2 linked regions of the Homo sapiens genome follow. The protein of the gene in region 1 purifies or fractionates together with the protein of each later gene. This does not show direct contact. Each region holds a gene or a part of one and is shown on either strand. Other genes may lie near its edges.

Evidence for each region. Proteins that work in one complex are often made in the same cells at the same time.
Region 2: the proteins of MIX23 (region 1) and PITPNA fractionate together in Homo sapiens (co-fractionation; one large-scale study listed by BioGRID). This does not show direct contact.

Annotation. Positions count from the first base shown.
Region 1 is NC_000003.12:122,366,232-122,369,731, forward strand, and holds part of MIX23 (protein MIX23), read right to left. Parts: intron 2,092-3,500; coding exon 1,945-2,091; intron 1-1,944.
Region 2 is NC_000017.11:1,556,293-1,559,792, forward strand, and holds part of PITPNA (phosphatidylinositol transfer protein alpha isoform), read right to left. Parts: intron 2,268-3,500; coding exon 2,237-2,267; intron 1-2,236. UniProt on the Homo sapiens protein: Catalyzes the transfer of phosphatidylinositol (PI) and phosphatidylcholine (PC) between membranes. Shows a preference for PI and PC containing shorter saturated or monosaturated acyl chains at the sn-1 and sn-2 positions.

The DNA.
Region 1 (3,500 bases):
TGCCTTCATGAACAGCAAGGGGAGTAAGATCAACATCACTGCATAAGGTCACTGTCCAAGGGATCCACCAGTGCCTGTGGCATGAGCAGGTATGGAATACAGACCTGACGCAGTAGTCATGAACAAAGAGAGCAGCAAAGACAGTGGCTGAGTCCTGGATCCAGTGAGACATCCAGAATTGGCGGAATGATCGAAAAAGTGCAGCAGCCTGGCCTACTCACCTTGTGTGCAGCCAGCTACAAGGAAAGAGGTTTCTTTTCTTTTCTACTAATAGTTTTCAATAGATGACGAGGTCCCCTTTTCAAAGTTCAGCTACATCTACTAAACAAAGGGCAAACTTCATGACTGTGCAGTATGAAAAGCATGACTCAATCCCACAAGGATCCGTAAGTCACCTATTATGCCATCTTAAAATACAAACATGAAGTCAGGTGTGATGGCTCACACCTATAATCCTAGCACTTTGGGAGGCTGAGGAAGGTGGATCACTTTGAGCTCAGGAGTTTGAGATAAACCCGTGTAACATGGTGAGACTCCATCTCTACCCAAAATACAAAAAATAAGCTGGGTGTGGTGGTTCGCGCCCGTAGTCCCAGCTACTGGGGAGGCTGAGGCAGGATTGCTTGAGCCCCAGAACCAGAGGTTGCAGTAAGCTGAGATTGCAACACTGCACTCCAGCCTAGGTGACAGAGTGAGACCCCATCTCAAAAAACAAAAAAAAAACCATGATTTTGATAATTGTACACTGGTCCTGTAGGAAAAGTCCCTGTTCTTAGAAATAACTAATGAGTTTAAGGGTAAAGTGGTACAATGTGTATAACATAGTCTCAAAATGGTTCATGAAAAAACTGTATTTATGCATACAGGTGTGTGGGGAGACAGGGAGAGGGAGGAAGGCAGGGAAGGATGAAGAGAAGGAGAGAGGGAGGGTGAAGAGAAGGAGAGAGGGAGGGTGAAGAGAATGAACTGTAAAGCAGGTGGGGCAACATATAAACAATAAGTGAATATAGGTAAAGGGCACATGGGAGTTCCTTACACTATTCTTACAACTTTTTGGTAAGTTTGAAATTATACAAGATAAAAAGTTACCCCCTAAGAGTCCCCTCAAAAGAAAGACAGCAATAAATCCCACATAATAAAATATGCTGTATTTTTCTATTGTTTCCTTGACACGTCACATACAAGTGCTGTAAAGAAACAGTTCTGCTGCATTAACTGTATTCTGAAGTCTACACCCTATCTACATTATAGTTGATTTGGGAAAATAAGGCTTCCTCTGACACATCCCTAGGTAGGTACTTGCTATTTTCTTAAAAGTAAAAACACTGCAGGGATAGGGGAGGAAATGGGAAAAAGTCATGTCCAAGAAAAAGCCAAAGATCCCTAGCAACTTTTACACAGTAGGGAAATAAATTATAATGAGGTACAAGTAAATCTGGTTATATTTAAATCATACTATATTTTTATGGCTAACGAGGGTAATATCCTGAAGTTAAATAGTCTATATTACATTTCAGCAGATTTCTACACAATGAAACTGGAGCTATTTCCAAAATATATTAGAGATGTTTTTCTCAGGTTATGTCTCAAAAGGCAGATACTGTACAGATGTGATTTCCCCAGAATTTCTGATGTGGTACTTCACCTGTAGTGATCCCTTGTCTTTAATAGTGGGAAAGAAACAAAGAAATGAAAATAAATTATGACTGTGCTTATTTTAGACAAAGCTGCTATGCTGCATTTGTTCAAGAAGTGCACATTAATTTACCAATTAATAACTAAACATAATAAAATAAAGCTCACTAAAAATGAAGCACTAATCTCTTGATCATTTTTTTAAGTAACTGCCATATTATATGCCAAAATTTTCATATTAAAAATCTTACTTTGAAGGCTACAATTGGAAAAACTTTGCCTGAGAAATGTTAATTCTGTTCAACTTACCTTTGTCTGCTCTTTTCTAAGTTGTTTTAATAACGTTAAATCGTCCAAATTCTTTTCTCTCTCTTCTCGGAGGTTTTTTACTACTGCTGAAGTCTGGGCTATACAGTTTTTTATGACTCTGTCTCTACTGGCATGAGCTGCCATCAACTAAAAGAACAAAGGAATGAAAGGAGAAAAAAAAACTGCATAAATTTATCACATTTTAGTGTTTTTCAAAAAAATCCTTGAGACTATAGAAATTCAATACTTTCTAAAACAATTTCTGACGACTGAAACCATGAAAGAGAAGATTGTGTTGAATCAGCTACCTCATCTAAAAACATAACTGGCAGCATCTCTGAGGGTGGAAGGTATGAGGTCTGGGGCTGTCCTCTTCCTCAATATGCTCCTGGTATTGACTTCAGCTTTCCTTCTGCATTCCCCAAGCTGGGCTTTTCTCACTTCAGTTTCCTCTGCCCTACACCACTGACTTTCCCCATGATTCCATTCATGTGTTCCTCTATTCTACAACCACCCGCACACACCTGGCCACTTAAACGGCTATTCTTCCTCTCTTTGTCCTTTCATATTTTTTCCTGTCTCACATTGTCAACAAGTGAAAGAAATTATAAACTAAGTCATGTATAGAAGATTTCATTACAATAAATAACAAAGAATGCTACCTTTACCTTCGCAAGACAGAGCCCTTTTCAAGATTATAAAATATAAGTATTGATAAGGAAAACTTATATATGAAGCACAGATTAGTGGTTGCATCAATTGTGTGTGCTTATTGAAATTAAGGATGTCTGACAGAACAACTCTTGATAACCTCCATCTTAATGCAACAAATTAATAAAAACATTTCTCATTTATTTCCCATCTTGATTCTAAAGTATCATGGTCATGTTTCAAACATACTTCCATAATCATAGCCACATTTTGATAATACCCCAAAATCTGCATTTGTTAAACATTGTTTCAAGTTCATAGACTCTATTGTTCAGTATTGATTTTTATGTTTACCATGGGAATAAACAATGTAAAGCTAGAAAAATGTCATAGATTGAAGGGAATATGCTCTAATAAGATCTCATTGAAATTTACAAGTTTTACCTTGAGTATACTTTTGAGATTTGAAATTTCTAAAATGAGTGCTTCATAATAACCTTACTGATCAACTCCTAGGAAGAAGCGTTATTTGAAAAGGCAAATATCCCTTCTTCAGCTACAGAAGGAAGCTGGGTCAGGGATTAAAGTCAGGGTGAACATGAGCAACTTGGATATTTCATAGAGTTCTGCTTCTTGACTGACATAATACTTAAGGGAACTCAGTGGTGCTTATTGGTATGGGCACTCTGCTGCAGGCTCGATCCCTGGCACAAAGCTACTTGAAAAATTAAGCTTTACTTGATATACATGTTGCTGAATCCTTCCAGGATATAGATACAGAGAAAAACTCAAACACACACACAGGATTTCCAAAACAGAAGAGTTCTAAATTTAGTATGCAAGCTTATCCTGATTCAACAAGGAGATAAAAAACAACAACTTGTGATTCTCACAGGGCCTGTTAA
Region 2 (3,500 bases), on another chromosome or scaffold:
ATCCTGATCAGCACTCACTTCCCAAGCTTCTGCTTAGACTTCAGGCTCTGATTACTCAACTCCGCCCCACCACTTCCTCAATGCTGCAGAAAAACCATCACAAGTGAACACCCGCCAACTGTGGATGCTCTCAAGGTGGAAGTTCCCCTTTCCTTCCAGTCTTGGCCCCACCATAAGCCATCAGTGTCTGGCCCTTCAGCCTTACTCCAAGAACAGCCCCAGGTGCTCCAGGACAGGCTGGCCCTCCTTGGTCTGCAGCACTTCTCAGAGACACTCTCGCCCTTCGTTCCATCAAGAAACTCCCTATCAAAGGATCCATTTCACCCCTAATCACCACACTAAGGAAATCCCGAGTTCCTGGGGCACATCTTCCTAACGATCGGGGTGGGATCATCCTGTACAGCAGAGAGGACGTCACTGGACACCTCCCCAAGAGCTGAGTTTGAGGGCAAGGGACGCGCTGGGCTTTCCTGCTTGGCCTTCTGGTTTGGAAAATCATCGCTTGCTATTTTCAATAAAGACAGCACAGGCTGGGTGAAGTGGTTGACATCTGTAATCCCAGCACTCTGGGAGGCTGAGGCAGGAGGACTACTTGAGGCAAGACCAGCGTGGACAACAGAGTGAGACCCTATCTCCACTATTTAAAATAAATATTATAAAATAAAAAAAATAAAGACAGCATGGCCAAAGCAGGTGGGTTAACAAGACCCTTCCAAGCCAACACCTGTCAGCCCAGGCACCTGGTTCTCAGGCCCCAGGTACATCCCCAGTGCCTACAGGGATTAGAGCCATCTACCCAGCCATTCCCTCATTCTCCCTGGTTCCCAGGTTCCCCAGTCTCGTTTCTCTTTTCTGCCCTTCCCAGAACCCCAAGATCACGGTCAAGGCCCACCTCTGGCCCCCTCCCCAGGTCCCCACAGCTCTTATCAGATATGTAGCCCACCCCTGGAGGCAGTCCTCTAAAGGGCCAGTGTCTGCCCACCCCTCTCGGGGGCCAACAAGCCTGGATGTCTGTCTCAACTAAATGTGCTGCAGGCTCTGCTGGCCTGATTTCATTTTTCAAAGGTGCAGTTCATATTGGGAACAGAGTGGAAGTTATCACAGGAGCTTCATGCTGACACTGCAGGAAAGAGAGACGGAGCCCAGTGACTGGAGGCACTATACTGGCTGACGAACCTCACCCAAACTCGAGTTTAACTGGAAGCTGGGGCGGGGTGGGGCTGTGATTTCAGAAGGAAGCAAAGAACAAGGCTGCGCCAGGAGAGGAGAGTGGAAGAAGTTCAGAGAAAGAGTGAGACAAGGGAGGTTCCGTGACAGTTTTCCGTTGTCCAAGAGACTGACTCTGAGTCAGCATGGCCTATGAACCTTCTTACAGCAAATCCTGCTGCCAGATCCCCACATACAAGGATGTCAGACCCAGGAACCGTAAAAGGACAGAGGACAAGCCAAGCCTATGTGTTATTCCCTGCCCTTCGTAAAAGGAGGGTTCTGTGTCTTGGTCTTTCCAGCAGTCACCTATCGTGGCTAGGGAGAGCCTCAAGAGATTTCCTGCCCTGCTGGTTTGTTGCACAACCAGAAAGAGCCACGCACACTTGCCAGCCGAGTCACGGACGTCCCAGAAATGCACACACTTGATCCCATCAATAATGCGTCCCCGGCCGGGTGTGGGGGCTCACGCCTGTCATCCCAGCACTTTGGGAGGCTGAGGCGGGCGGATCACTTGAGGTCGGGAGTTTGAGACCAGCCTGGCCAACATGGTGAAAGCCCATCTCTACTAAAGATATAAAAATTAGCCGGGTGTGGTGGCACACACCTGTAATCCCGGCTACTTGGGAGGCTGAGGCAGGAGAATAGCTTGAACCCACGAGGCAGAGGTTGCAGTGAGCGGAGATCGCACCACTGCACTCCAGCCTGGGAAACTGAGCAAGACTCCGTCTCAAAAAAAAAAAAAAAAAAGGGTCCCCAGACATGCACAGCCCCAGCAGATAAAAGGGGCTGGTTTAATCTCTACTCATCCAGCATACCAACAGCTTGGGACAGGTTGCACACAGTTACCCAGATATACAAAGTAAGTGCCATTTTTCAACTGAAAGTGGCACCACGAAATTCACATTGAAATATTTATGTTAGAACAAATAAGAAAACTATATAAACAGGATAACCACTCAGAGCCCAGCTTAGCCAATGGTCACAAACAGTTACACACAACTATGGACCAGAAAGTAAAAGGACTTACCTCATCTACAGACACAGGCAGGATTACTCGACTATAAGAAAGGGAAAAGAGAGTATCAACTTTAGGCTGTGCAATCTGCTCAAGGCTCTTTAAAGCATCATCCTAAAACAGTCAGCAGCATTCTATTGTGTAAGACACTAAATTCAGTGACGAAAACCCCACAGAGAATGGCCCTTTGAGTGCTCTGAGGACAGGACCCTCTGTGCCCTAGAGGTGTAAGACACTAAACTCTGTGACAACACCCCCCCCCCGCCCCCCCCCCCAGAGAATGGCCCTCTTAGTGCTCTGAGGACAGGACCCTCTGTACCTTGAGGCATCCCAGTTAGAACCCTGTGATTCAGTCCAAACCTATCCTCCCGCCAGCTACTTCCCAGGCCTCCACCTCACATTCGGAACTGGACATATGGATGATAAACTTCACCCAAACTTGCCAATGAGTCGTCCCCCCAACAAGACTTGCCAGTGAGTCTAGTAAGACAGGTTAACACAGGAGGACCTATCATGGTGAGGATTCAGACCCAAACAAGAGGCCCTGGGGACTTAAATTTCTGTGGACCCAACCTCCCAACAACAGCCCTCCAGGGGAAGGGCCAGGAAGGGACCAAGCCCCTTGAAGCCTAAGAACACACACCGGGCATCTCTGCTCGGGGCTGGATATTACAATCCAAGCTGCTACCACAAAGCCACCAAGAGGGCATTCAACTTATGTCCTGACCTCCAGGAGCTGTCCAAAGGAATCCCAATTTATCATTTTCTTTTCTTCTTCTCCAACTCAATGACCACCAATTGCTGGAGATGCCACCAGCAACCTATTGGAGAAGCCGTGGCCGGCAAAGTCTCCGCCAGGGCCAGAACCCCACAGAGGTGCCAGGGCTAGCAGCACTTCTCCAGGTGCCGTGCATGTGAAATGCAGACCAAGAGCCACCCCCAGTTCAAAGCTGTGAGGCGGGAGAGCTAAGACAAAAACTCTTGGTTTTACCCATACAAGTCCAGCCAGTTTCCAAGCTTAGACGTTCGGTCCCCAGACCCTTGCTGGAGCCCTCTGGGTCCTTTTGTGTCTTGCATGTTTAGTGAAGCATTAGGGAAGCATGAGCTGCTGTGCCTTCCTTATGCAGCCGGCTCACCACTCAGGCTCCTTGCTCCAGGCTAGTAAACAGCTATTTTCTAGTTCCACAAAGGTCCCCCAGGAAGCAAGAAGGACACAGAGGGGTCTGAGGAAAACATCACCTCAAAGGCAAGACACCAAGCAGGAAAGTAGCAGGAA